2 separate regions of the Homo sapiens genome follow, and region 2 is linked to region 1. Evidence: fine-mapped QTL for protein levels in blood plasma. A gene starts in region 1. The other region holds a variant in brackets. All regions are shown on one strand. Distances are between the middles of the regions. Region 1 holds the start of HDDC2 (HD domain containing 2). Region 2 holds the start of LOC124901395 (a long non-coding RNA gene).

Region 1 (15,690 bases):
AATTGGGTACTAATAGCCACTGGGGAGCACCAAGTGCCACAAAAAGAAAGATTTGGAAGGAGACAGGCTAGAGTTTCAGTGCTTGCACCGTTTCCTGGCTCTAAAAACTGAGGCCAATTCTTTAGCTTTGGTGCACCTCAGTTTCCCCATCTGGAATGTGGAATCATTAATACCTTGGAGTGATAATGAGAGAATAAAACAAGATGAGAGATGTAACAATGCTTCACACTAACAGAGGCTCAATTAGCTGTACCTTTGATTATTATCGCTCTGAGTCCAGAGTTTTGTGTACTACATCACAGATACATAGCAGATTTCTCAATAGTGGCAGATTTTGCCCCTGTTCTGGCCACAGACCACTTTAAGAATCTTCTAAACAAAAAAAATTTCATAAGCAACACAAGTTGTAGACAATTTCAGGGTATCCACAGGTTCCCCTGAAATGTATATTGGATCCAAGTAAAGAGTCCCTCTAACGAGAGCCTTCTAATTTCAAACATCTTTCCTTCCAATTGACTCAAGTACATTGTGCCAAATCTCCTTCCTTGCTCACTGCTTTAAAATGGAACCACCTTCTGTGGAAATAAATTGATTCCTATTTCCTCTAACCTAATGCTAGAGGAAGATGCTTGACCAACACATCATTGAAATATGTCTTTGGTTTTGTGAAATAGAAACAGGCTTTCCAATTTCCCTTCTTCAGCAGAAAAGGGGAAGAAGGGTATTTGGTAAAAAGGGATTCAGGACATCCAACATGATTATCCACTGTATTAGTTTCCTATTACTATTGTAACAAATTACCATAAACTTAGCACAAACTTATTATCTTACAGTTCTGGAGGTCAAAATGGGCTGCATTAAGCTAAAATCGAGGGGCGGGCCACACTGCATTTCCTCCTGGAAGCTCTAGGGGAGAATCTAATTTTCCTGTCTTTTTCAGCTTTTAGAGTCTGCCTGCATTCCTTGGCTCATGGCCCCTTCTATCTTCAAAGCCAGCAATGGCCAGTTGAGTCTTTCTCCCATCACATCCCTTTGGCATTCACTCTTCTCCTTCCCTTTTCCATCTTTAAGAACCCTTGAGATTACATCTCACTCATTGGGATAATCCAGGATAATCTCCCTATTTAAAGTTCAGCTGATTAGCAAAGTTAATTCCATTTGCTACCATTCTCCTTTGCCATGTAATATAGAAATATTTGCAAGCTCTGGAAAAATTAGATATCCTTAAGAGGCTACTATTCCACCTTCTAGAGTCAAACATCTTGGTCTTTAATGATATAGTAGGAATAAACCTTGTTACGAACCCTGATGAACATCTTCAGTTTACAAAAGCAAGAAGTCGGCACTATATTTTGAGTTTTCACAGTAACAATTTACTTTTAGATAGTAATGTCCCCTCCAAAAATCCATATCATCTTTAAATAGTGTCCCTCAAAAACTATTTATACTCAATTCATAATTTTTCAGCAACTTGACGTCTTCCAACTTCTGATCACTTAGGAAACTGGAGAAATTCTTTACAGCTCACTACACAAAGTTAAGATAACTCACGTGTATTTTGCAAAGAAAGTTGCAAATACAGACAGAAATACCCATGGAAACTAAATCAAGCCTGCATGAATCAGGAGGAGCTCAAAGGAAATCAATGCATTGTTGGCAAAAGAAGACAAGGCTGCTCAGAAGGAACCGTAAGGGTTACACTGCACATTCACCAGCTAGCTTGCAGCCCCATTGCTTCATGGCACCTATCTCTTGAAAGCCCCTTACTACATCCTTCAGCAAATCCAACATCCTCATCTTCCTTATTCTCCTGGATCTTTTTGGTCATTTGCTTTCGTGTTCCTCCAGTGGACTGTCTGACTTTGCCTCTGATTCTTGATCCTTCTTTTTAAACCTTGATCCCTCCATTTTTTAATTTTTAATTTTTTAGAGACAGGTTCTGTTTCCCAAGCTGGAGTGATCATAACTCACTGCAGCTTCAAACTTCTGGGCTCAAGTGATCCTCCCATCTAAGCCTCCCAAGTAGCTGGGATAAAGGCACAAACCACACCTGGCTTGATATTTCCTTTATTTAGCACCACTTACCATCATAAAAATGGCTTCCAGGTCATTATCCTAACCACGTTTAATACAAGCCCCAATGTCCTTGGCATTTATTTGGTTCTTAGTCATATTTAATCTTGTTGCTGAACCAGTCTTCAAAAAAATTATTTCATGCCTTCTTTCTCCTTGTATTAGTCCATTCTTGCATTGCTATAAAGAACTACTTAAGACTAGGTAATTTATAAAGAAAAGGTATTTCATTGGCTGTACAGGAAGCATGGCTGCAGAAACTCACAATCATGGTAGAAGGTGAAGGGGAAGCAGGCATCGTCTTCACCTGGCAGAGCAGAAGAGAAAGAGAGCAAAGGGGGGAAGTGCTACACACCATTAACCAGATCCCATGAGAACTCACTCACTATCACAAGAACTGCAAGGGGGAAGTCTGCCACCATGATCCAATCACCTCCCACCAGGCCCCTCCTCCAACTTTGAGGATTACAGTTTGACATGATATTTGGGTGGGGTCACAGAGCCAAACTATATCACTCCTTAAACCTCAAATGCCTCCTCCTCTATTCACAAACATTCTAGCCTCCTTTCTTCCCAGAGGCCTAGCAAGATTGCACTCCACAGGCCCCCTTTGAAGTTAGACGTGGCAGTGTTACTTATTTCACCAATGATACGTAGACAAAAGGTCATATATCACTTCCAGAGACAGGCTTTAAGAGCCAGAGTGCCACTTTTCTTTTTTCCAATTTTGGCAAAAGAGAGCAAAGAAAGCCTCCTAGCTCCCTGAGTAAGGTTAGAGCAAGCAGCATCCTCTAGCTGATCTACAATAGACACTTAGCATGAGAGAGAAATAAACCTTTGATGTGTTAAACTGCTGAGATACAGGAAATAAGGAGGTTGTTTGTTATTATAACATCCCAGCCTATACTTTGCTTCCTAATTTGGTGAGAAAATAGAAGCAATCAGAAGAGAACTTCTACAACCTCCCATGACCACATGTGCGACTGATTAGTCACCCTATACTCTGTCCTCCTCCAATATTTGAATGAATTCTCCATATTCCTATCTAAAGCCCATCTTTTATCTTGTACACCAGATGGGAATATTTTTCCTTACTCAAGGCCGACATTCAAATATTTCTCTTCTTTGTCTCTTACATAATCAATGTTTCCCTTTCTACTAGATCCCCTTCATCAGTAAACATACATAATATCTCCTGTTTTGAAACAATCTCTCCACTAGTTAACAGCACCCCAACCCCATCTCCAATGTGCTGTAATACTTGCTCCTATTCTCTTCGGAATTATCTCACTAGGTTCTGCTTGGCCCACTACACTGAAAACTGCTTTTGTCAGGGTAACCAATAATATTGAATTTACTAAGTCTGGAAGTCAAACCTTGGTCCTCACATTGACTTGGTTGACCATATTCCTTCCTTCTTGAAATATTTTTGTACATGGCTTCCAGGACACAACTATCCTACCTACTAATCCTCTTCCTACCTCACTGGCTGTTCCCTCTTGATCTCACAAAGCCTAAATGTTGGGGTTCAGGTCTTGGGTGTCTTTTCTTCTTCATTCACACCCTCTTGCCAGGTGACCTCATCCAGTTTCATGGTTTTACACTGTCAACTGAAGAATAACGAGGTTCATAAATTTAGAAAGGAGAGCTTTATTTTTCATAAAGAGTACTGAGTGTCAAGTATGTGCCAAGCAAGGTGTCTGCCACTGACGGAGCAATGCCCAAGCAGCGGACACCAAGGCCAAGAAGGCGAAGGCTGGACAGAAGGTCCTGAGAAAACCGTGAGAATATGGAGGAGGGGGAGGAGGAATAAGAACAGGAGGAGGAGGGGGAGGAGGAATAAGAACAGGAGGAGGAGGAAGAGGAGGGGGAGAGAGGAAGAGGGGCAGGAGGAAGAGGAAGAGGAGAAAGCGGAAGTGGGGGAGGAGGAGGAGGAGTTGGAAGGGGAGGAGGAAGAGGGGGAGCAGGAAGAGGGGCAGAAGGAAGAAGAAGAGGGGGAGGAGAAAGAGATAGAAGAGTAAGAGGAGGGGGAAGAAAGACAAGGGGAAGGGGAGGAGGAGGAGGACGGGGAGGAGCTTCGCCGCGGCCTGCTCCGCCCAGCCGGGGTCGGTGGCCGCATGGCTTCGGTCTCCTCTGCGACCTTCTCGGGCCACGGGGCTCGGTCCCTACTGCAGTTCCTGCGGCTGGTAGGGCAGCTCAAGGTGAGCGGGCACCAGGCCGGGAGGCCGCGGCCGAGCGGGCGGGACTGTGGGGCGGCGGAGCTTCCGGCCTCCCCGCTCGGCCGGCGGTCTTTGCCCTTCCTGCGCCGCGTCCGCCACGCCGAATTCCGGAAAGGCCCCAGTCCTGCGGATGCGGCCGCGCGTTGCCGACGGTGGACGGAGGAAGCAGCCGGCGGGACAGGCTGGCCAGCTGGGGCGGCCCGGAGTCTGAGCCTAGAGCCTGGCGCCGCGAGGTCCGCACTGCAGCCGCGCCAGTTCCCGGAGAGCAGCCGGCCTGGCCCTGCCTGCACTGAGCTTTTCCGGGGCTCACGACCCCAGAACTCGTGTGTGTGTGTGTGTGTGTGTGTGCTCACGACCCCAGAACTCGTGTGTGTGTGTGTGTGTGTGTAAAGCGCGGCTGCTTCTGAGCACGGGTGGGAAGAACAGAATCTGTCGGCTCCTCAGATTTTAAGTGGAGCTTTTTATGTCTGTCTCACAGTTACTTCCAGAAACAAGACTTTTCTCCCGGCCACCCCCCAAACGGGATTTAATGTAATACACACGAGTTTCATCATGTGCGTCTTCCCCGTCTCTCTCCCAAGTTCAAAGTAAATTATCCGTTTCATGCCACTCTGACTACTATTTATAACATTCCTTAGAGATGTAGAATTCTGAGGAAGAAATGCAGTTTCACAAGATGAAGTTATGATGTGAATAAAAGGAAGAGTCACGGCTGGTAGCATCAAGCAATTAGAAGTGCCCTTATCCCTTGTGCCTCAGAATTTGGAAGCCTATCACTCGTTCACGTTCAGACCCTTCAATACAGTGTTTTCTGCTTGTGTAGGATTATTTGAAGGCAAAAAGCCGCAACTCTTGTTCGGAAAAATGCAGTTTTGTTTTTGTTTAAAGGACTTGCATATGTTCCATAATTATACATCAGTAACAGAATAATTTGACGAATGGACTTTGTGACTTATCTCTCTCTGTCTTCTACCCCTTTCATTCTCTGAGCTCTCTAGTTCATTTGATTCCAGATGTCTATCATTTTAGCTAGTTTAGCAAAACATTTTGTAATAGGTTCTGAAATTATGACCCGGCTTCTGTGTGTTATATCCTGGACATCTCTTGAAGAGCATAGCAGATAGTTAATATTTGTTCTTTAAAACTTCTTTTTCTTCTTCATATTTATCAGAGAGTCCCACGAACTGGCTGGGTATACAGAAATGTCCAGAGGCCGGAGAGCGTTTCAGATCACATGTACCGGATGGCAGTTATGGCTATGGTGATCAAAGATGACCGTCTTAACAAAGACCGGTAAGCTGAGCTGGACTTTGATGCTCGTGAGAGATTCTGGTCTATGGGTGTGCACCCGTTTTTACTACTGAGACCCATGTCAAATCCTTGTAGGTTAGTTTATAGGTCAAGAAAAATTATTTGAAGCAAACCATACAAATTTAGGATGTGGGTTATGTTGCCTCAGTTGTTGTAAACTGCAATCTGGGGTTTCTGTTGGCAAGTGATAGAGCCTGCCTAGGGTATCAGGGGAAACTTAAGTGTGATATTGGGGCCTTGAAGGTGAGTGTGTTATGTCTAAAATTCTAGCATTGTATTAGTACACTGTGTGCTCTTTCCTAGTGCCTTTTATGGATAGTAGTATCCATTCGTGAGGCTTCCTTTTGGAGTTGTGTGTGCAAGACATAGCTGAGAAAGAGGTATCTTCTCCCCCTTCATTTAATCGACAAGTGTTAAAATGCTTTTTGAGCACAGAACAAAAGTTTACTAGCATGTAAGAGAGTAAATAAATCCCAAGTGAATTACGCAGGCCCAAAATAGCTTCTGTAAGAAGTGAAATGTAAGTTATGGTCGAAAATGTTAAGTATTGTAAGAGCAGGGGAGATCACCTGTTCTTGGTTGATCTTAATGGAGGAGGTGCAATCTGAGTTGAGCTCAAAAGGGTTAACGTAGCCAGAGAGGTAGGAGAAGTCACTGCATGCAGAGAGAAGGGCAGATAAACCAAAGCCCTGAGTGTAGGAAAGTAAAGGAGTATTTTGCAAATGAGAAATTAATCAACTTGACTGCAGCAAAGAGTTCATTTGGGAAGCCTGAGGAGTCCTCTGTTACTCAGCAGATGAAGTGGAACTGAGGAGGTTTTTGGCAAATGGTACAAGGTGAAAATGAAGTCCAATAGAGATGCAGTTTGGAGTAGTCTGGGATTTGAACTGGACCAGAAAGAGACTAGAGGCAGGGAAATCTCAGAGGACACTGTTGGGCCTTGTACTGCCTTGGTAGTGTGGGGAGCCTAAAACATACTGGCCCTATGGGGCATTTATCTCATTACTTGACTTCCTGTTTTGATGATGAATTATCACAACCACTATTCCTTAACCGCTAATAATCATAACCACTTATTGAATGATTCACATGTGTCAGGAACATGAAAGTTGTCAAATGTAATCTCGTTTTTTTTTGTTGAGACAGTCTCACTCTGTCGCCCAGGCTGGAGTGCAGTGGTGCAGTGTCAGCCAACTACAACCTCCACCTCCCAGATTCAAATGATTCTCCTGCCTGAGCCTCCTGAGTAGCTGGGATTACAGGTGTGTGCCACCACACCCAGCTAATTTTTGTATTTTTAGTAGAGATGGGGTTTCACCATGTTGCTAGGCTGGTCTCGAACTCCTGACCTCAGGTGATCCGCCACCTCGGCCTCCCAAAGTGCTGGTATGACAGGCGTGAGCCACCGCACCTGGCCTATTAGCCTTTTAAAGTGAGATTTCAGAGATAAACCATTTAAGAAAAAAAATTAATGCTAACAATTTCCCCTATACTCACATGTATTTTATTGAATATGAACTAACAGTTTTGATCAGAACTGTTGTAGGCTGGCAGAATATAACTACTTTAGAAAATACTACATTAAAATACTCTGTGAGGGTGGAGAAAAAATATATATATTATATAACTTTGGAAGAGTATAGAGAAGGAACTTGTAGTAAATATAATTCTGTGTAATTATTCGACATTTCTTGCCTGATCAGATGTGTACGCCTAGCCCTGGTTCATGATATGGCAGAATGCATCGTTGGGGACATAGCACCAGCAGATAACATCCCCAAAGAAGAAAAACATAGGCGAGAAGAGGTCAGTGTTGACTATTGACTGTGCAAAAAACCACCAGAAAAACCTCTTGCTGAAGCAAAGCTAAGTTTATGAGACCTGTTACAGTTAGGGAGAATACCGCCTTGATAGTCTTAGTAGTGTCTTAGGAAGGGGAAGGTCAGGGGAAGATATTTTTAGAGATTCAGGGCCTGGGCTGGAGAATATTAAGATGGATCTGACAAGTTAGGCAACTAGCTGGGATTGCACAGTTTAGGATATAATAGATTTAGATTGGTAAACATGTGAAGGAAGGTCGTAATGAGTTTTGAAGAATAAACTGTTAGTGTTGACCCAGTTTTAGGGGGTTTACAGCCTTATCTTCCAGAAGCAGGGATTTCCTGGAATAAGCAGCAGATTGGATTTTGCTTGTTGTGTTAGTCTGTTCTTTTGTAGCTTTTATAAAGAAATACCCGAGGCTAGGTAATTTTTATTTTATTTTATTTTTGTTAATTTCACCTTTTATTTTAGTTACAGGGTACATGTGTAGATTTGTTACATGGGAATATTGTGTGATGCTGAGGTTTGGAGTACAGATCCTGTCACCCTGATAGTAAGCCAATAGGTAGTTTTTTTAACCCCCCTCTCCCTCCACACTAACTTTCATTAGAATAATGAAAATAGCTGGAATTTAAATGAATTTGTAGGAATTCTCCATGCTAAATAAGCTTTTTGGAGAGAAGTTCTATAAATCACAAATCGAATCATTATTGTAATTATTATTTAGTAAATTTTAAGTTACTCCTTTAACTTAGGGGTTGAAGGTAAAGAAAAGTCAAGTATTTGTATTAGAAAGAAATGAATAACATCAATAATGTATTAAATTAACATCAGTTTGGACTCTAAACCCAAAGCCCAGGGCAAACGAGGAAGATATGTTTGAAGCAGAAGCTGGAAAATGAAGGAAGCCTTTTTTGAATGCTGAGTGGTTGGTTTTCAATTCAAGAGTTATTGCTAGCTACTTTTATTAGAGGCCTAAGAGATTGGTCCTAAATTGCTGAGTAGTAGGAGTCTTTATTGAGATGGTTTAACAGGGCAAGTGTGTTTAAATGTCTATTCTCAGAGCTGGGGAGACTGGAGCTTGTGGGGGAAAAGAAAGAGACATCAGACTGTTACTGTGTCTTTGTAGAAAAGGAAGACATAAGAAACTCCATTTTGATCTGTACACCTGTAGACTAACGGGCTCAGTAGCCAGCAGGATTTTTGCCCTTCAAAGGTAAGAAGAGCCACAAGGAACGAGAGTCCCAGTTTAAGAGTTCCAACCTACCCAAAAGTGTAGGCACAAGGGGAATAGTATAAGGAATGTGTTCTTCCTGCCAAAGTTTAGGTCCAAGATACAGGCTGACCAAGACAGGAAAAGGGGAGGAGTCTAAGGAAATGTTTCTCTATATGAATCTGCACTGCCATGAATAAAGAACTGTTCTGTTGACTGGCAGAATTAATATAAAAAGAAACCAATTAGTTCGAGATTCTTAGTTGCAGAAAGGAATTAGCAGCTGAACCAGAGGATGGTGAGTAATGAAGTATAACACAGAGGGAAAGGAAGGGAAAAAAATTCCTCAATTACACAGCTCATTGTAGGATAGTTTTATTCAAGGGTAAATCTGGACATTGTGGACGAGAAATCATATTCTAAAGTACCAGTGAGTCATTGAAGACCTTAAGGTGAAGAGAAGGCAAGGAAAAATGGGGCCTAGAGGAAAAAGACAGACTTCCCTCTGGAAGCACACAGTGAATTTGAGATTCACTCCGCAGAGGAGCAAGTCAAAACCTTCTGGAGAAGAACCAGTCAGTGTGAACCATCTCCAACAACTGGAAGTGAGGAGGACCTACGACTGTCCCTACAAGAGCTGAGTCCTGGCTGGTGACACCCCATGGACAGGCACAGAGGGGACCTGAGCAATCAGAGAGGATACTGCTGCCTTCTAGGATGCTATATCCTGGCTTTGATGAAAAACCTTTCCAGCCTCATTAAACCTCCTGACTGCTGCCCACTCCTGCTGATTCACAGGGGAATAAATGTCATAAGCAGAAGGCAATGGGGAAACATCTTAAAGAACCACAAGTTCTTGGACAAGAAACCAAAGGCTTGGAGAGCACTGATGTTCTATTGCCTCTTCCTGCTGCTGGTCAGGATTTGGGAAGAGAGAAGAAAATCAGGGAGGTGAACAATTCTTTATGCAGATGGTGTTTATGAACAAGATTTGGATGTCTGAACCATGCATTAAGATAATTAAATGAGGGTTTCTTGGCTCTGAGTGGAATTTGCCTAATGAGAACCAGGAAACCTCATTTGCCCTTGCTGGCTACATCAGTGAGCCTCTAAACTAAAGTAGGAGGGAGAAAAAATACAGTGGTCCCTCAGTATCTATGGGGTATTGGTTCCAGGACCCCCATAGATAACCAAATCTGCAGATGCTGAAGATAAAATGGTGTCGTATTTGTATATCACCTGCACATACCCTTCCATATACTTTGTCATCTCTGTATTACTTATGATACCTAATATAATGCAAATGCTATGTAAATAGTTGATAACACTGTATTGTTTTTTATTTGTATCTTTTTTTTTAATTTTTTTTTTTATCTATGGTTGGTTGAATCCGTTAATGCAAAACCCACAGATATGGAGGACCAACTATACTTGATAAACCTGGAAGGCTGATTGTTTTGGAGAAAAGTAGGTATTAAGATGAAAGGGAGAATGAGGGCATAGAAGAAACAAATTTAGAAAGGAGCCAAAAGCAATACTTGTAGTCTGGCCTCATTCCTAAACATATTAACATACACTTGATATTATGCAGGTTGATAATGCAGGTTGATAAATGATGTCTGATAAGGATCACTGTGATCTAGTGAGGTGGAACTTGAAGCTGGAATATAATGGTGGCAGGTCATATTCCTTTGCAAAGGGGAAACCTTATTGAAACAGAGGGCAGAGTCGTGGTATGCCTGTGTCTGGGAGGGTTAAAGTTGCTAAAGAACTTGGAGATTACAAAGAGAATGGAACTTTATCATAGAGTAAGTATGACAAGAAGGAGAAAATGAAAAACACAGCAAACATTTATAGAGTGCTTATTATGTGGCAGATTTATAAAGTGCTTATTATGTGCCAATAATAAGCACTTTATATGTGTATTAACTGTTTAATCCCTATGATCCCTTTAGGTAGGTACCAATATTTAACCCCACTGTGTAGATGAGAAACCTGAAGGACAAAGAGGTCAAATGACTTGCTCAGGGTTCCACAGCTAGTATTAATAAATGGCGAGCCGGGTTTGAAACCCAGTCTGGATCTGGTCTTCAGTTGACTACTACACTCTTCAGCCTCATCAGTGTCTGAATGATGAATAATACCTTCCAGTTACTTGTCACAAAACTGACACAAAATATTTGCTGAAAGCTTCATTCAGCTCGGCACTTTAGGCAGATTTTTGACATATTTTGCTAACAGAGGAAGAGGCTAGGGAAGCTGTCACTCTAAATCTATGACTGAACAACAAGGTGAAACTCAGTATAGAAGTGGAAGTGTCAGGGCTCATCGCTTGCCAGGAAGGGAAAGGCTGGCATACTCAGCTGTGTACCCTGGACCTCAGCCATGTTGATTTCAGAGGGTTCAATTAAAAAGGCATGATTCTGGCATGTGCTGCCAAACAAAGAATATTAACTCTCTACAAGGTTTCAAAAATGCTATTCTGATTGTGTGATTAACAAATATCAATCAGCCTAGATTCAGAAAATCATAGTTCAGTTTCAGGAAGAGAGCAACAACGTATTTGCTGTTTTGTTTTTTAAAGAATATGGTGATTTTGAACAAAAAGAAGCCTATTAATAACTTAGTAATTGGATGTGATCACCAAAAAGCCAATTCAGTCTTACACTGCACTTAAAGGAATATAGTATCTAGCATGAGGAAGGTGATGATTCCATTTTCTTCCACCTTGGTCAGATCATACATATATCACTGTATTCAGTTCTAGGTGTGTCATTTTAAAGAGAATAAAATAGTCTCCTGTCAGAGCAGGACTTTCATGTTTGCATTCTACAGTTGAGATGTTCATATACCTGTATGTACATATGATTTAGTTCATTCTTTTCAACTGGAAGTAATTGGCAAACTTGTGTTTCTGCAATAGTGTAGAGAAAAGGAATCTATAAAGACACAGTTAATTTGTGAAAATATAAAGTATTTTCTCAAGTATTCTTGCTGAAATTTATGAAAAAGAAACAAGGGAGAATGCATGTACAACATAAGCTAAATTCCTTCCTACTAAGGGTAGTGTGATGCTACCACTCTGTAACTGAACAAGCCATTCAAGATGGTGATGTTATTTATAAGAGTGGATTGTTGACATTGGCAAATGTGGTTTGCTCTGGAAGTGGTTGTATTCTGTAACATTTTTTTTCTCCCAGTAATAAATAAATATACACACAAATGTCCAATTTTATTTTCACTGCTTTCCTGCAACTCACTATTTTATTTTATGTAAGACCTTTATATTGCCAAAAATGGTTTTTATAGCCATATTCCGTTCAAAGAGCCTAACCTCTGTGGTTAGAAGAACTGAGGCTGATTAAAAGGTATGGGATGAAGGTGGTGAAGGAATTTGAAGCTTTTTGAGAGTACTGGAGTAATTCAGAAATAAAGGAAGGATACTGGAGTAACTCATAAATAAAGGAGAAGACTGGAGGATAAGGGTAGCTCCTGGGATCTTTGAGACCAGAAAGTACAGAAAGCCTAGAAGTACAGGACACCCTCTACTCTTATTTTGTCTCTGCTTTTCATTAGGTTTTGGCTAACTCTCAACGCTTCTCCTTGTGGTGGGGAATATGGCTTCTCTCCTAGCCTCTGCTTGACAAATGCAGATGGCCCCTGAATGCCTGGTTTGAATTATAAGATTATCTCTTAGACCAGTCACTGTGGCCACAGATAGTCCAGCCCAGCGGGGTCACTGTCCACCTGTTTGACGTTGTGTTTGTGGGTTAGAGAGGAAAGCAGGAGGGATGGGTTAGGTGTGGTAGAAGAACTACAGGGAAAATTTTCAGCTTGATATAAGAAAATAATTTCTGCCAGTACTGTCTAAGGCAGCCTCTTGAGGTACTAGGCTCCCTACCAATGCACACATTTTTGGAAAGAGGATAGAACTGTTCCATGATGCTATTGAAGGGTTCAGATACTACATGGATGGTTTAGCTAATTGCCGTTTAATATCCCTTTTCAGCCTGTGAGTCTGTGAGCCTACAAAATTCTATCATGTAACTTCGTTTATGTTAATGGCAATAATCGCTCATTTGTATTGTACTTTACATCTTGCAATAAAAACATGTTAACAATAGAAAATGAATATACAAAAAATCTCTTTGAGCTTTGTAATTCAGTATTCCTTTCCCATTCTCCCCACTCAGGTTTGTTTTGAACTCTCATATGCTTATGATTGAAATGTATGTGGGTATGTTGTGATTTATCCACAGATGTAAAATCCTTGAACACCTCTGATATTTCTGTAATTGTCTCATGACCTCCTCATTGTCCTTTTCTATGTCTGTTGTGTTGTAGACCACAAAAGAGGTGCTAAGCGAAGCCCATATGAATGATTACACTTATTTATTTAAGGTATACAACTGCCTGCCTTCCTCACAAGCTATAAATATTGTCCAGTATAGGCCAATTTACTCTGCTGCCCCTGTGAGAGTTGTTTGTAAGAATCCGAACCTATTTGTCTGTTGCAGAGTGGTTGTTAACTGTGATAAATGTCAATATAATTAAAGATAATGGTTTAATATTTCAGGAAGCTATGAAGCAGATAACCCAGCTCCTACCAGAGGACCTCAGAAAGGAGCTCTATGAACTTTGGGAAGTAAGTATATATGGTACGTTACTGTTTTTAATTTGTATCTGAATTTATATGGCTCCCTGATGTTGTACTTGACTTAGATGATCTTAACAAGCGGTCCCTAACTTATTACTGTCTGGTTTGTGTCTGTTTCTCACTTCCCAGCTGCTGCAGAAATTTCTCCTGATGGATAGAAATTTTGTATCTCTCCAAGTTCCCCATTTCCCTCGCCACCCCAACTCCTGGCACTTGACTCAGCCCTTGAGTTCTTGCTGCTTTGCCCACACCCACCCATTTTTGGTCCTTGAAAAGAACATGGACTTGGGGATAGTTCAGAGCTGGGATTGAATCCCACCTCTCCACTTTGAGGTTCTGTGACCTCGGCACGTTTCCCTCACTGAGTCTGTTGCTCATCTGTAAGACCCTGGAGGGTTGCTAGGGTTGGATGAGGTCAAGGTGAAGTGCCACAGAGATGCCTGGCATGGAACAGGGCTCTACCAGTGCTCACTCCCTTCCCAGTGCTGCTCCCTTCCCAGTGCTGCTGACAGTGAAGGGAGGTTAGGCTGGAAGGAAAGGGCAGGTTCAGCTGTTGTTTCCCATTGCTTCCCTCTTCTACTGTTGTCTTTCATTTGTGAAGGGAAAAAAAAATTCCCCTTTCCAATTACAGTTTCTCTCTTCCAGCCAGTCCACAATGGCCCTTCCTTGCTTGAGCCCTAAGCCTCCCCTTATTCATAGATAGCCTTTTCCTCCCACTCTCACTTTTCACATCTTCTTCAAAGTCCATATTCATCCTCCTGTCTTAAAGCTTGATCTTCTACCTTCCCTTTCTACTTCCTTACTCAGGCCCCTTCCTGCTTTGCCTCTGCCAAAGCTGGCAGAGTTTCATGTCTTACTCCCTCATGTGCTGGGTCAGGTTGTCCCTTGTCTTAGGAGTGTGAGGGGAAGTGCCCAGGGTTGAAACCCTGCACAACTCCTTCTAGAAATGCCATGTAACGCTCAGATTCTGTATGGCACTGTCATTTTCTGTGGTTTGGGTTGATGGTGGGATGAAATAGCCATTTTAAGGCATTCAGGTGTGGTGCAAAGACCAGAGCCTTGCAGCCAGAGAGACCTGAGTTTGGATCCAACTCCTATTTACACACCCATGTGTGAGTTACTTGACTCTATTTAACCACATTTTCTCCTCTAGAAAATGAGAATCATACAGGTTCCCACACCCTTATCCCCAGTTATGAAATTCAGAAACCTCAGAGGACCAGTTTTTAGGAAATTTGACCTGACCTGAACTCATTAGGCAGCAAATCTTACCTGAAACAACATCAGGCTATTTAGAGTCCTCATCCATCTCTCTTGGTGTGGAAATGGGTATGCTTTGATGCAGAAATCTTCATCCGGCAACTGAGTGCTGTCCCAGACCTCACTAGAGGCATGACTTAGTGTACACCATATGTACCATATTATTTTTCTAAAATAAGGAAATGCTGAAAGCCAAAAGCTCTGGCCCCAGGGTTTAAGATGAGAGATTATAGGCCTTCAATACCTATCTCGTTGAATAATCATGAAAATTAAACCTGGCAAAGTATGTGTAGTATCTAGCTTGGAGCCTGGCTCAGACAGTACCTGTTACTACCCTGTTACTACACTTTAGAAAAGTGTGCCTCGTCTCAAAGTATATACTTTCAAATGAACTTTCAGAACACTCCTTATATGTTGGGAAATAATGGAGTGGAGTTAGGTTGCATCTCATTCATAAAAGAAAAAACAGTAGCACCTCATGTATTGTCGCCTAAGGGGGAAACACTCTTGTATTATTAATTTGAAAAACTTCTACAATAGTTTGTACCTTTGTGCCTAATTATTGTAGACATGGTGGCAGTTATCTATTAAATTATTTTCTTAGCCATCAGTAACTGGTGAAAAACTTTACTGCAAAATTTACTTGCAGTAGTATCTTCCAAAGATAAATGCTACAAAAGCTATTTAGAACGGCTTTGAATTTGAACAAATATAAAACAGAGAATTAAAACACTTGATAACCCCTAAAGAGGTAATAAGTTTACTATCTTATAAATGTCATTGGTTGAATTAATGAAGCCTGATAAAGATTTCTCTCCAAAAGCAAAAGGAGGATTCTTCCTTGCCTCTTTCTAGCTTTTGGTTATTGCAGTCCTTGGTTCGCAGACACATCACTCCAGTCTCTTCCCTGTAGTCACATGGTATTGGCCCTACGTCAGAACCCATGTCCAAATTTCTCTCTATTGAATAAGGGTCCGCTCTCATCAAGTAAGACCACGTCTTAACTTGATCACTTCTGTCGAGACCCTATTTCCAAATAGGGTCACATTCACAGGTCACATTTACAGGTTGTAGGCGGACATAAATTTTTCAACATAGTATTCAACACAGTACAAGTTTCTGTAATAATTTATGCA
Region 2 (15,690 bases), 26 kb after region 1:
CCAGTGAGATGAACCGGATACCCCAGTTGGAAATGCAGAAATCACCCACCTTCTGCCTTGGTCTTGCTGGGAGCTGCAGACCAGAGCTGTTCCTATTCGGCCATCTTGCCCGGGAATCTCATCTTGTATCATTTTCTTAATGTCTTTTATCTCTTTTTGAAATATAGATTCGAGTTCTCTTTTTAAAATGTAATTATCTTTTTGATATGTCTTTTTGACACAAATTGCCTGTGAGATGTTATTTTGCTTCTTATTCTTTTTATCTTATGGGATAGCTGTATAGGATCTGACCTTTGTGCTTTTCTGTTGCTTATTTTGATTGGCAATTAGTTTTACTGAACTTGGAAAGGAAATTTAGTTCAAATTGCTCTTTTTCTTTGTTATTTTTAATTTATTTATTTTTAAATTGACAAATTGTTTATGGCTCACAACATGGTATTTTGAAATATATAAATGTTGTGGAATGGCTAAGCAAGCTAATTAACATGTGCATTACCTCACATACTATATTTTGTGGTGAGAACAAGTTGCATTTTTAACTTCACAGAGCTGCTTCTGCTTTTGTTGTTGTTGTTGTTGTGTTTTTTTTAAATGTAGCATTAAAAAAATATGGTGGCTTTCTTTTAGAGATGTCCTCCTGGTTTCGTTCCCCTTCCCCATTTTTATCTGGGTCTTTTCTTCATCTGTGTTATCTGTATCCCACTCAATTTTGATTTTCTTCCCAGCAGTTTCTCCTCATGTGGGCCCTCTCCTGGAAAGCAGCCCCAGCAGGTCAGATTGGAAAATTCACTAGGGCTGGGCTGTCTTTGATGTAAGCTCCTTGTGCTCATCCACTATTGGAGTGGGCAAGATCCCTCCCAGTGTCAACTACTGTTCTTAAAATGTGAGATTTCTAGAGAATACCTGTTGGCCCTTTTGAGATTCTCCTATTCTCAGGTCCATCAGACATTAATCCTCTCTTACTCCCATGCTGATGGCATGCAGGGCTTATGGCTGGAGGTGGTTTGTCTCTACTTGCACATATTTGGACTTGATGGGAATGTCATGTCTCCCAGTTTTTGTTTGGGTTTTGCTGTTTCTTTGCTGTGTCAGGTTTTGTCTGTTTCTTCTCTTTTGCTCACTATTTTATCATGAACCTAGTTACTCAAACCAGAAACTAGGCAGTCATTTTCACTTTTCCTTCTCATTTACTTTTATATTTTAGTTCACTTCTTTATCCTTAATATTTCTTAAATCCTACCACTTCTTTCCATTTTCACTGCTACTGTCTTAGACCAGATTCCTATAACGTCTCTGCTAGTGCTACAAAGTCTTAGAATCTGATTTCTCTGCTTCCAATCCAGATATTATCCACCTGTAGTTAGAGTGACCTTTCTGAAATGCAAATCTGAACCTAACTCTTCCTGACATTAAAAGCTACTTGCAATAATTTCTCCAAATGCCATGCATTCTTCTCACCCCTAGAGTTCTGTCTGTAGTATTATTTTGTGTGCTTTGCCTTTTTATTGAAGAATGCCTATATCATTAATTTTTGAGGGAAAATTTCAATAATTTATATTTCTTTTAAAAGAAATCTGTAAGTTCATGAGAACTTGTAATAAGATGTATTGTATTTCCTAATGGTCTTTAAATATTTTTCTCACTTTCAACAGAAAAAAAAATTTCTAGACTGCTATGCTTGGAGTATTCCATTTCCTTTTGTGAAATCATGAACTTGAATTTATTAAACATAAATATATAACTGTGAATGTGAATAAACAAATAAAATGAAATTATTTTTAAGTGCCTTTGAGATAAAGCAAAGTGTATTTGGTTCCATATTTAAATGATTCCCCCATACAGTTCTCAGCTTTATCAAATCCAAGTAGCTGCCTTTATAAGAATAAGCGTGTAATAAAAACTAAGAAACCTTTAATTGATTCATATCACATCACCCTGCCAAGAAACCATGACAGGTTTGTTATCTGAACACATCTGGGGTAGAATTACAAACAAGAACTTGGCAGGGAAACCAGTTGGGAGCACTTTGTTCTTAATAGGAGAATGAATCTATATAGTATTAATTGGGACTTGTGGTTGGGTGGCATGCATCATTCTATAAGAAGCAGAACTCCTGGAGCTTCTTGTTCCAAGTCTGCACTGCAGAGGGAGGGACCAGTGGGAAGGGAAAGGTAAAAAAACTGCTCCCCCCACCACATTCACCACCTCCCACCTGCAACACATGCACATACCGGTGCATGTAAAATCCTCAGATCTTGGCTCTATCCTCAATAGTCTTAACTCAGAGGGACTTAATTAAATCTACCCTATGTGGAAAGTAAGCACAGAGATTCCCAGGTAAAGTGGTAACCAAAAGTAAATGATAAAGCTAGAAATACACTTAGAAATGACAAGGAAACCTGACATGAAATGGAGAGGGAAATACAGGTTTGAGAGGCATAAGACGAAATATCAGCTTGATGTTAAAAATATCTAAACTACTTAGGTAGATTAAAGAACAATGGTCTTAAAATGAAGACACGGTATTAAACAGGAAGAAAAGATCTTGAAAGTACCTAAGATGAACATACAAGATTTCCATGGCTTCTGGTAGAATACTTAGAATGGAGAGCACATCTTTCTTGTATAGAGTCCTGGTGTTAGGCTGTGAAATTACAGAAGTGTCTCTGATGGATTTCTAAACAGTAGAGAAATGGGGCCGATACAGAATGTACTTGTAGCTGTCACTCTGATTTCGGGTACCAGAGTCAGAATTTTCCCAGGATACCCTATTATGCAGCGCTAATCATGCTGCTTTAATTGTCCCTTTACTTAGGAGTACGAGACCCAATCTAGTGCAGAAGCCAAATTTGTGAAGCAGCTAGACCAATGTGAAATGATTCTTCAAGCATCTGAATATGAAGACCTTGAACACAAACCTGGGAGACTGCAAGACTTCTATGATTCCACAGCAGGTACTCAACACCATTTTCAACAAGAGTCCATTTTAGTTTGGCTTACTCAGTGTAGTGACTAATGTTAATATTAGGGAAACCCACTGTTGGTACCTTCATCTGACCCTTTCATGTGGAGCATCTAAAAAGAAAGGGAAGGAAACATTCGGGTAAGAGGCTGAGGATAGGAAATAAATGGAATAGAGTTTAATGTGGAATGAACAGTAAGCAACAACAGACACAGGCAAGAAAAGACGGTGAGAGAAGAGATGTTGGGTTGAACAGTCCCCCATGCTAGCCGTCATGGACATACAATAGCTTAGAGCTTGGTTGCTACCAAAGCAGAAATCTGGGGAGGTCTGAGGAGCAGGGATGACAGCACAGATCAGCCAATTGAAGTGTAGAGGTGTTTACAAGAGAGACACCTGCATCCTTGTTTACATCATGAGCCAGCCTAGCCCCTCTGATCTTCCTCCTTGTCTTTTCATATATAGGTGCTTCATTCTCCTTACTTAATTGCAGGTTTGGAATGGGCAGAGATTGTCTTCAGCTTTCTGGGCTCTCACACCTGAGTTTTCCCATAGTTCCTGGTAGAGGCACTGAGGAGCCTGGTGAAGTTTCCCCTACCTCTGCCTAATTGATGATTCCTTGCCTGAGTCTCATCCTTATTCTCAGTTGCACCTGGGGTGACAGAGCGTAAATGCCAAGTGGTCCCCTTCAGCCCCTTCCCAGGACCTGGAATCTCTTTCTGCTTTGGAATGAAGTGTGGGTCAGATCGTAGACTAGAGCCCCCAGTGAACCCTGGGATCAAGCTGGGGAAATGAATATACTCTCTTGTCAATATGGGAATGTATTTTTCCCTGTTCTTTTGCTTTGCAGGAAAATTCAATCACCCTGAGATAGTCCAGCTTGTTTCTGAACTTGAGGCAGAAAGAAGCACTAACATAGCTGCAGCTGCCAGTGAGCCACACTCCTGAGACACTCTCTAAATTGCTGCACTCCTGTAACAAACATTATTTTTCCATTTCATTGTATTGTGTTTTGCCATTGTTGGTCTGTTGATTTCCCTAGATGTGAGTCTGTTTGTTTTCAATTGTCTGAACTTCAGCAAGAAATGTGATACAACTTGGGCACTAAAAGAAGCCACAGAACAGGAAGCGGTCATGAAAGTGCCATGGATGAACACTGGAGGTGGCAGTGCCTGTTTATGAACTAAATAAATAAATATTAAACACCTAAAATATTAGAATATTTATTGGAGATTTAAAATCATCTTATTCTGACTTAATTACCGATATCCCCGAAGGCTAGGTTCATTGAATAATAGAAAATTTCATTATGATTGCTTTTAAGAACAGATTCTTCAGCTGATTTAGTGATAAGAATCCAGAAAAGAAAATGTACTAGTGATGTATTCTCTCCCCAGATGAAATTGCTGCCTTATTCAGATTTACTCTCTTGAGCCAGATTTTGAATTTCACTGCAGACTGCTTCAGACTTCTAATCATAGGCTTGTAAACCTACTAATAGGCTCTGCCCCTCTTCCCAATACTTTTTGTCATTTAGAGATATAAACCGGGGCATATAAAAATGCAACTTGTATTCCTTTGTATATTTTTCCCTGTCTGACTTATAAATCTTGAGACCTTTATTGTAAAAGCATGTATCATCAGGTGAGAAATATAAATAGGAACTGGGGTCATTGAGCCTCAGGTAGGGAATATATCAACCCGATTTCTTCCTCTCTTTTCCCTTTTATAGGATAAATAATCCACCCTGTCTGCCTTTACATTGAATAGTGCAAAAAAGAATACGATTTCTGCAAACCTGCCCAGTGTTTTGGTGTGGAGCAATGATGCTTGTCCCTTTAATTCAAATGTCACTTTCCATTTGAAGGCCTTCGAGGCTGGCATGGTGAAAATTCTAGGCAGTGTTTCTTTGGAAACTCTTTGCGGTATCCATGGATACCCAATCTGCAGGAAGCAAGGTGCATGATCTTTTCAGAAGCAACACACATATGTATGTGTAATTGCTCTGTATCAAAAAGAAGAAAGAGGGTAAAGTCCATTACTGGATATATGGTTAGTAGGAAAACAACTCCATCTATTAGGATTGTGGAGTTTTTCCCTTGGCATGAAAACATACACACAAAATAACCCCAGATAAAGTTCAAGTATTTATAACCAGAAGGTGTTCTGTGGCCCTGCAGTTTTATTTTCAATGTTTTGTCTACCATAATTTTCATAAATAGCTAACAAAACAATTCACAGAGAGACTTTGGAAACTTCTACTGGGTTAGACTTTATAACTAGTCACTTAACCATTATCTCAGTTCATCATCTACCTACGAAATGGGAGTTTTCAGTTAGTCCTAAACCTTCCTTCCTGAGGAAATACATCTTTTAAAGAAAGAAAGAAAAAAATATAATAGTGTTATAAATAAAACATTTGATGATAAGAAAATAACAAAATGAAGATCAACAAAATAACAGCTCCTGAGCCTACCAGCAATGTCTATAAATGAGCATTATTACTTAAAAATGTTAGTCCTTAGAAGATACCTGCCATTTGCCTAGACTTTGTCTTCTGAATGACAACCCTATAATTACAATGCAGAGTAAATAATTATTCATGGTTTGAACTCAAGAAAAAAGAATTATTTGTTACTGTTTGTCAGATTCTAGCCCAAACTGAGGTCCAAAGGGAGTTGGTGGGCTGGTGGCAGGTAGCTGGAAAAACTTGAGGAATCGTAGGCAGTTTTGACATGGCGTTATTCTCTCTCTAGGCGCGAGCCATATGTACAGCATCAGCAGGGTAGTTAAACCTTTTAGAGACAATAATGGATCCCAGCCAAGCACAGGCTCATGTGAATGGTCACCTAATGTGCCTCACGTGGCATGGTTACATAATGTGTAGAGTTGTGTGCCTGCGTTCCAAACCCACTGAGTCATGCTGTGCCAGAAGGCTGCCTCAGCCTACTCCTGACTAAAATGCAGCCATTTCCCTTACACTCCATCCCCTAGGCTGAGAGGAGTCTTTCAGGTAGGGATACGTGCCCATAGGGTGGAGCCCTGAATCCATAACCCACAACACTACAGAGAGCAACAGCTCATTACCAGGATCCCAGCTATGCTACTTAGGACTGTAAGGGCCCAGCGTAGGCCACAGCCCAGAGATGCCCACCATCTCTGCAGGGGGTTGTCAGTAAGGCTCTCCACCACCTTAATCTCCCATGAGACCTCTTGCAGGGCTGCTGTTATGTTCTGCCAATTGTCAGGGATAAAGGTACAACATTGTGTTCCTAAAAGGGCACAGGTGCCTCCTTGTGCAGCAGGTTACTATGTCTAAGGCCATTCAGTTTTGCAATACCACCTTTCTCATCTGACCAGCCTCATCCATTAACAGGAGGAGGGCCACTTGGGTGTAATTCAGAGCCCGAGTGGTGTGCTCTGCAAGAGCAGTAACTTGTGCTTCTACAGTTGTGACACCCGCCGCAGGGATAGTCACTGTCAAGGGGTAGAACCACTGGGGAGCTCGTCGCACTCACAAAAAATGAGAGTGTAGCGCCTTCCAGTTATGCAGTGTCTGGGCAATGTGGAGAGAACAGTGGCCACCCCCAGTTCCAACATTCCGTCCAGTTCACTGGTAGGTAAGGCCACCCTGTGTGCCCACAGACCCATAAACTCCCAGGGGGCACAAAGTCCCTTGGGGCCCAAACTTGGGGGCTGCTTGTTCCAGCATACCTTCAGTATGGTGACATGTGTTATGTTTACACAGGCTGTGATGGGTACCTATCCCACAGTGGTGTTACCCCAGTGTTGCTCTATGCTCTGCGACACCTGGGCTGGGGGTACTACATGTTCCCCCGCTAGCCAGCCCCAGCCATCATAAATGCTATGGGCCAGCCACATGATGGGAGCACCATGGATCTTGCAGCGTCCTTTGTCCAAAGCTTGCTGCGTTGCATTCCAGATGTCAACCACGGGACCCCAAGTCTCCAGCCATGTCCAGTTCTCTGTAGACACTGAATGTATATGCCAAGGCAAGTCATCTGCAGCTGCTGCTGGAAGGGCAGTGCAGACCCGAAAGTTGGAAACATTGATCACCTCAGCACAGGTGTGGGCGCAGTTTACAATGCAGTTGGAGCATGTTAACCTATGGCCAAAATGACAGAGCAGGCACAGCTACTAACAGAGGTAAGTGACGTCCCTCAGGCAAAATACAGGCTAACTTTTCATCCATGGATAACAATGCAGCTGCCAAGAGCTTCTGCCCTGGGCGATGGTACCACACCTTCTCAGCTCCCCATGGTTCCTATGGGTCCGGTATCTATGCCAAAGTCAAGGGGAAGCTCATAATAGGCCACACAGACAGTACTTATGTCCCCCAGAGGAGCGTTTCTTCCCTGGCTGTTGCCCTAAGAACAATCAACCAAGGGTGACATGTATTGAATGCCCAAGGAGTGACATGCAAGTCATACTGTAGGTCTTCCCCACAGGGAGCTACAACGGCCAACCACCAGCAGTGGGGAGCCTGGAGGGTCCATGGCCAGAGCCAGGTTTTCTGTTCCCCTCCCTTCAGGGGCATTGGGGCAAGCAACAAAAGGTTACCGTTCGTCCCCATACCTGGTCGGAGGAGGTCATCCTTAGTGTGTATCTGCAACTGAATAGGGGTGGTGGCCCAGTGTAATAAAGCCTCCACCAGGGCTGGGCGGTCTTTCCATGGCTGTTCATTCAAGGTTTGAACCACCAGGTCCAGCTTGGAACTCCAGCACTGCAAAGACGGGTGTGACATGCAAGTGTAACCCATTCTTCAAGAGCCCTTTATATTGCTCAATCATACCCACAGCTTGTGGGTTGTATGGCACATGGAATCCCCACTTTATGTCCATTTGTTGTGCACATTGTTGTACCTGTTGTCCAGTGAAATGGGTGCTCTATCACTCTCTATGGCCAGAGGGCAACCATACAGGGCACATAAGTGTTGCAGGACCCGGAGGATGTGCTGTTGGTTGGCCACCCTGCAAGGGTAGATGTACAACAGGCTTGTGGCCATGTCCACAGCTGTTAGCACATGTGTATACCCTTGCAATTTTGGCAGCGGACCGATGTAGTCTACTTACCACCTGGTCAAGATCACTCGCCCTGTTGTCACTTGTGTAAAAGTGGGCAGCTGCCTCCATTTAGGGTATGACCAAGCACATACTGGGCATTTCTGACGAGCCTCCCAAATACCTTGCATGGGCAGGGACAGACCCCAACACTTATTGCCCTGTTACATCAGTTTGCCCCTGGCATGTCCCAGTTTCTGGTGTAGCCAGAAGGCCACATCTTGTGTTGGTGCCGACTAACCATTGGACCTTGGCCAAGACATCTGCCTCATCATTGCCAAAGGTGGCCAAAGGCATATGGCCTGACACATGATAAATAATTACATCTTTCTGATGATCCATTTCCCAGAGGTCTTGCCACATCACTTGGCTCCATGACATAGGTCAGTGGCTGACTAGCCAATTTTGTATTTTCCAAGTAGTTAACCACAAGGTTAAGCCTCGGTAGGCTGCCCAGCTATCGGTACAAATCACCATAGATATCTGCTCCTTAGTGATCACCATCTATACTGCTGTAAGTTCAGCCCATTGGCTACTTTGCCCACACCTGGTTTCAAACCATATGGTGTCTGTACTAGGTTGGACTGCAACAGCGGTCCAGGCAGCATTAGATCCTTGGCTAGACCCATCTGTGTACCATGCCCCATCAGGAATGGGGGGTACCCTTCCTTAAACGGTGATGGCTTGGGGTCTAGGGGTGCCCCAGGCCCTATAGCCTTCTCTTGCATTAGGACTATAGGTCCCAAGACCTCTTGCAATTCTGCTGCCAAGGGTCTTGTACTCAGCAAACTTTGCTGCTCCAAGTAGGTGCCCCACTTTGCCAAAGTAGATGTCTGTGCCATCCCAGTCCAGGGGGGCATTATCCATGAACACATCCATCCCACTATTGGGTAAGCCATCCACATGATGACTGTAGCCCATCCTGTCACACTTTCACAAGACTGAAATGCTGCATATACAGCTGCTAGCTGTTTCTCTATCAAGGACTGTTGGAGCTCAGCTCCTTTCCACAGTTAAGACCAAAAGCCTACTAGTGTTCTCAGGCACTCTGTATGCTGCCACAGGCCCCAACTGAAACCATCTGTGCTCACATGCACATCCAGCTCAAACAGGTGCCCCTGGCCAACTACCCATAGGGCTTGTGCCTGCTGAATAGCCCACTTGGCTGCCAGGAAAGCGGTCTCAGCCATATCCCAATTCCAGGTAGCTCTCTTCTTTGTTAACCGTGCAACAGTTTTGTCATTTGAGCTAAATGGGGCAGAAATGCCCCCCAGTATCCCAGGAAGCCCACAAAAGTTTGTAGCTGCTTCACCGTGGTGGGCCAGGGCTATGCCTGAATTTTGTCAATAATAGCCTCTGGTATGGCCATCATCTTACCTAGACAGGAAACTTCCAATAATTTGGCAGATAATCCAGACCCTTGGACCTTGGATTCATTGATGGCCCAACTGCATGCTGCCAAATGTTGCTGCAAGAGAGGCACCGCCACATCTAAATCTACAAGAGAATCAGAGGTTAACATATCATCAATATAATGGAATAGGTGGACCCCTTCTGCACATTGCCAAGTGGCTAAATCCATGACAACAAGACCATGACATATGGTGGGGCTATGCACATAGCGCTGCGGCCACATTGTAAAAGTCCATTGTTGCCCTTGTCACGTGAAGGCAAACTGTTCCTGGCTCTTGGAGCAATGTCGATGGAGAAAAATGCATTGACCAAGTCCACCACATAGTGGTACTGTCCCAGTTCCATTGTCAAGCAGTCCATCAAATCCATGATTGACGGTACAGCTGCACTCAAAGCGGGTGTTACTTTATTCAGTTCCTGATAGTTTACCGTCATCCGCCTAGTTCCATCAAGCTTTCTAACTGGCCACACTGGAGAATTGTAGGAGCTGTGGATGCCACACACTATCTGCACCTCCTCCAGCTTTTAAATTGTCTCAGTTATCTTCATATGCCCACCCAGCAAATGGTATTGATGGGTGGAAGTAACCAGTTGGGGTTGTGACAGGACCTGAGGCTTGTGATGCCTATGTCCTTGCAGCACCAGCTTCACCAGATGCACTAGGAGTCTGAATTCCCTGGCCGTAGTTTGTAACGCCAGGCCATGTAAAATGTCCACCACCAGGATGTATTCAGGTATGGGGGAGACATACACAGTATATAAACAGGGAGCCAAGTGGCCAATGCCGAGGTACAGAGACACAGGTTTCACTTTCAGTAACCAGCCTCCATAAACATAAATGTAACAGCCTTGCCCAGAAACTTATCTGATTCTCATACACAAGGCTACAATCTGTGCCAATATCTACCAGCACTGACACCCGCTGTACGTTAGTGGGGGACCAGTGAATTGCTAATTCTACATGTGGCCACTGGTCATCTGGTGTCCCCCCAAGCTGGGCACATTGGCCAGTTCCCTAATCAAACAGAAAAGGCTCTACATTTCAGCCTGGCTGCAGCAAGTAGTCCTTGAGTTGGAGCACCTGGGCGGGAATGGGTCACGCAGCAATGTCCTTCTTCCCCTTGGTATTTTCCAGAATTGCTTCTCTGGAGACAAGTGTCTCCACAAAGTTAAGAATACTTCATTGGGCAGTTTATTGATTTTCTCTCAGTCAACCCTGGACAAAATCAAATCTACCCACATCTGTGAGTGTGTCACTCATTGGGGCCCCCTTTTTGCCCATGCGGGAGCCCCCTGTGGGCAGGGCACCTTCCTCTTCTTTATGGTGTGGACCCCTCAGTCCCACCGATGGCCTTCTGCTTCCCCGAGAGCTGCTATAGCAGTGGTCACTTCATGTATGCGGTGCCCTACCTACAGGGTGAGGACAGCAGCTAGGAAGCCAAA[G/A]GTGCTCGGGGGTGCAGAGGTAAACATTCATCACCTGGCCCCCGGGTATTCAGGTCAAACATAGCCTGCCATATAACCATCGCCCAGATGACTTGCACCAAATCAGCATATGACTGCCATTTACTCACAGTTTCAGTTATTTCACCAATGTCATTTCACACAGTCCATATGGCTGCCCAAAGCCACTCAATCAGGGTGTGGTAACCTTGCCCTGCCACTAGCCACCTGCTTACTTGCAACCACTGAAGGAGGGAGGGGAGTCATGATGGAGGCCAGCTTTTCCATCCCAGAGGCAGAACAGGGATACTGTCTGCTCCCTCATCCCACAAATGAAGCATGCAGTTGGGCAGGGGTTCCCCTGGACACTGGCGGCACTACTTGCCTAATTCCTGCAACTCAGTTGGGGTATAGGAAATATATGAATTGTGTTGTGTTACCACTCGGGTGGGCTTCCTGGGATATTGGGGGGCATTTGTGCCCCATTAGCTCAAATGACAAAACCGTTGCACGGTTAACAAAGAAGAGAGCTACCTGGAGCTGGGGGAGGGGTGTCCCTGAGCCCACCCTTGGGGCCCCAATGGCTGTTCATGATTTACCTTCCGACAGGCCACTGAGCAAGCCCACAACAGGGGTCCTTCCTCCACGGTATCAGACTGAGTGGGGATCTCCAGCTAAGACAACAGACCCAGCCCTCGAAGGCTCTCTCCTTGTTGGTGCTCTGTGCTTCCAGCTGCTTCAGTGCCTTGTCTGTGCACTGAAGCATGACCCATCTACCACTGCCCGGGTTTCCACCAGAGCCCATCCGAGCAGTACAGCTGCCACTGGGTACCACAGCCCATGTTCTGGCCACATGGCCGACCTGGAATCAGCAGGGACCAAAGGCTCACTCACCTCATGATCCTGCTTACAGCACCAATTGTCAGATTCTAGCCCAAGCTGAGGTCCGAGAGGAGACGGTGGGCAGGTGGTGGGTAGCTGGAAAAACACTCAAGGAATCACAGGCGGTTTTGACATGGCTTTGTTCTTTCTCTGGATGTGAGCTATATGTACAGCATCAGCTGGGTAGTTGTACCTTTTACAGACAATAGTGGCTGCAAGCCAAGCACAAGCTCATGTGAGTGGTCACAATGTGCCTCATGTGGCGGGGTTACATAATGTGCACAGTTGTGTGCCTGCACTCCAAACCCTCTGAGTCATGGTGCACCAGAAGGCCACCTTGGCGTACTCCTGACTAAAGCACAACGATTTACCTTACACTCTACCCCCTAGGCCAAGGGAAGTCTTTCAGGTAGGGATACATGCCCATAGGGCAGAGCCCTGGATCCATAACCCACAACAATACAGAGAGCGACAGCTCACTACTAGGATCCCAGCTATACTAGTTATGACTTTTAGGGCCCAGCATAGGCCAGAGACCAGGGATGCCCACCGTCTCTGCAGGGGGCCATCAATAAGGCTCTCAACCAACTTAATTTCCCATGAGACCCCTTGCAGAACTGCTGTTATGTTCTGCCAATTGTCAGGGATAAAGGTACAACATCGTGTTCCTAAAAGGATACAGGTGCCTCCTTGGGCAGCAGTTAGTATGTCTAAGGCCATTCAGTTTTGCAACACCACCTCAGCTTACTCCTGACTAAAGCACAGCCATTTTCCCTACACTGTTTTCCCCTTATGGATTGGTATTTTACCAGCTATTACATAATTCTCAATGCCCTTGTATTTGAAAAATGTTGATCCACCTCAAAGCCTTGTGGTGGTGATACATGCTCTGGGGGAAATGACTGATGAAGCGCTTTGTAAAAAAAAGCATCTCTGTACTCAGCATTTTCATTTAAGCAATTTGTCAGTCTTCACATTCAAAGGTGAAATGGGATGATTTCTGTGAAAGACATGATTTTGTCATTTTTGGTTTGCTTTAATTTATATATATATATAATGGATGGATATGTATTATATATATTATATATATAATGTGTGTGTACATGAATATACCCTCTGGTGTGAACTGAAAGTCAAGCAGAAATGTAGCATAAAGAATTTTACCATGCTTAGAAGTTATCAAAAGTAGCCATAAGATTTTGCCAAATATTGTTATAGTTTGAAATTACATTTGAATGCTAGGTTTGAAGAAGTTGTTTCACATTTCATATTAAGTCACTTTTCAACCTTACCACCATCTTCCTTTATCACACTACTTCCACTCAAATTGAATACTAAGTGAGAGGAGGACGATGGGGTTGATGTTGAACAACTTTAAAGCTTACACGTAATTTTGGAACAATGAACAGTGACAGAAGAGCCGTGTAGATCCCTGGGTTCCCTCTACACTGGCCACTGTGAACGGCATGGCATATCATGAAGACACATCCTAAAGCATGCACTTTGTTCTGTTTGCTATGGTTCAAGAACAGATTTCTAACAAAATGTGTAATTTAGAGTAAGATATGCAGATTGCATTGCTAAAATGACCTGCCAATAGTTGTAATCTTTTTTTGAGACAGGGTCTCATCTCTCTGTCACCCAGGCTGGAAGGCAGTGGCAAGATCTCGGCTCACTGCAGCCTCTGCCTCCCTGGTTCGAGAGATTCTCCCACCTCAGCCTCCCAAGTAGCTGGGATTACAGGGATGTGCCATCAAGCACAGCTAATTTTTGCATTTTTAGTAAAGACGGGGTTTCACCGTGTTGGCCAGGCTGGTCTCGAACTCCTGACCTCAGTTGATCCACCCACCTTGGCCTCCCAAAGTTCTGGGATTACAGGCATGAGCCACCATGCCCAGCCAATAGTTGTAATCTTTATGTGATGTGAGTTGTGAGATAAAGTAGCACTGTAAATTTACAAATATGTTCATCATAGCAACTGTGTTTAAAATGTGGTAAATCGTTAAATTTCAGAATGGCTTACTTTTTTTAAAAGCTAGTTTGTTTTGTAATCACAATTGCATCAGAATTTTTGATAATTGAAAGAATTGACGCCTGAGCCACTCGGGGATTAGGCCTGCACAGTCAAAAATCCGATTCTAGGTTGGGAGTTGTGGCTCACGCCTGTAATCCCAACACTTTGGGAGGCCAGGGCAGGTGGATCACAAGGTCAGGAGTTCAAGACCAGCCTGGCCAAGATGGTAAAATCCTGTCTCTACTAAAAATACAAAAATTAGCCAGGCGTGGTGGTAGGTGCCTGTAATCCCAGCTACTCGGGAGGCTGAGGCAGAGAATTGCTTGAACCCAGGAGGCAGAGGTTGCAGTGAGCCAAGATTGCACCACTGCACTCCAACCTGGGCAACAGGGTGAGACTCAGTCTCAAAAAAATAAATAAATAAATAAAACAAAAATCTGATTCTAACTTTGGACACCCCCTAAACCTAACTACCAACAGCTACTGTTGACCATAAGCCTTGTTGATAACATAAATGGCCAATTAACACATATTTTTATGTTATATGCATTACATGTGGTATTCTTACAATAAAGTAAGCTCTGGAAACAAAATGTTAAAAGAAAAACAACAGAGATAATATATGTACTATTCATTAAGTGGAAGCAGATGATGATAAAGGTCTTTATCCTCATTGTCTTCATGTTGAGTAGGCTGCAGAAGGGGAGAGGTTGGTATCACTGTTTCAAGGGGTGCCAGAGGCAGAAGAAAATCTGCACATAAGTGGACCCTCACAGTTCAAACTCCTGTTGTTCAAGGGTCAACTGTACATTTTCTGTGGAGGTATCCTTTCATACACACATGGTGTTGACCTGAAGTCATTTTGGTTTGTTAGTAAAAGGTTATGTCCATTGTGTGCAATTACTTTTTAGGACTTGTGAAACACTTTAAACTACTGCTTGTGAACTGAGCCTCACTAGATGTAATTGAGAAGCTCAGCAATCAGTCCCATCAGGATGATCTTGCACACCCATGGTGAGGGAGGACCAGGCAGCTCTTAGTGATGCTCCTGAAGCTAAGAGTAGGCTCACTGCCTAAACTAGGTAAGACTGCCCACCTACCAACAAGTGTTTGATTTATCTAATCTGAGTTATTCACACACATTTTATGACAAAAATAAAAAATGCTACTTATGCCATGGCCATTATGAATATCACTTCTAGGTCAGAGTGAATAATGAAAAGCTTTTAGATGAATAGAGATGATGTGCATAAGATTCTTACCAAACTAATGAAATCAGAATTTTGATGAATGGAATAAAATAAATAGCTAAAATGTGTTGGAAGCTTTAAGATATTACCACAAGTTTTCTTGATTGTTTTTCTATCCAATTCTAATATTGTGTTTTCAGATTATAAGGCTGAGACTATGGTGTGCAGAAATTGGTTGGTGAACGGAGATATTTGTTTAAAGTACCATAACTTTATCTAATACAATGCGGTGTGCTGAATATGGTAAAAAAAGAAGGTGGCAGGGAGTTTTCACAAGTTAGCCACTTCACACTCAACAGGCAGCTATAGATTGGGCACAGAGACTGAGTACTTGTGTGCTGTGGTGGGCGAGCCAGCACGGCCTGAGAACCAGCTGGGCAGGGTTGGTTTCCTGCCTCTACTTCAACCAACAGGCTGGAAGCACAAATAAGGGAGAATGCCAGCATCCCTGCTAGTGAGCTTTCTTTGTCTACATTTGTCCACTCTGGTCAAGTTTACAGCCCCATTCTCTCTGCTAAGATTCCAGGCCTCAGAGATGATGTTGTCCTGAACCACCTTGATTTTCAGTTAGGTGTACAGATTGCACAGATTGTCATGCTCCATTAATTTGAGTAGAATTTTTCAGATGTGCTTTACTTCAAAATGTCA

What was found. A credible set is the group of variants that fine-mapping cannot tell apart. PIP is the chance, under the fine-mapping model, that this variant and not a neighbour inherited with it causes the effect. The UK Biobank Pharma Proteomics Project read protein levels with antibody pairs (Olink). The fine-mapping took linkage between variants from a reference panel, not from the people measured, so its PIPs are less certain.
Region 2: its variant is the best candidate, but not a certain one, in a credible set for the plasma level of the HDDC2 protein (UK Biobank, PIP 0.50).

The regions. Positions count from the first base shown.
Region 1 is chr6:125,290,433-125,306,122 of GRCh38, reverse strand. It overlaps HDDC2 (HD domain containing 2), which reads left to right and starts at 4,156. Exons shown (of 6, transcript NM_016063.3): 1 at 4,156-4,274; 2 at 5,464-5,585; 3 at 7,307-7,409; 4 at 13,214-13,282. The coding sequence starts at 4,191. RefSeq lists a cis regulatory region at 2,453-2,633 and a silencer at 4,127-4,466.
Region 2 is chr6:125,264,366-125,280,055 of GRCh38, reverse strand. It overlaps TPD52L1 (TPD52 like 1), which reads right to left. Exons shown (of 7, transcript NM_003287.4): 7 at 15,649-15,690. It overlaps LOC124901395 (a long non-coding RNA gene), which reads right to left and starts at 11,941. Exons shown (of 2, transcript XR_007059736.1): 1 at 11,791-11,941; 2 at 4,136-9,540. HDDC2 (HD domain containing 2) reads left to right here. Exons shown (of 6, transcript NM_016063.3): 5 at 2,816-2,954; 6 at 3,813-4,706. The coding sequence ends at 3,910. The variant G/A (reference allele first, on the strand shown) is at 10,900.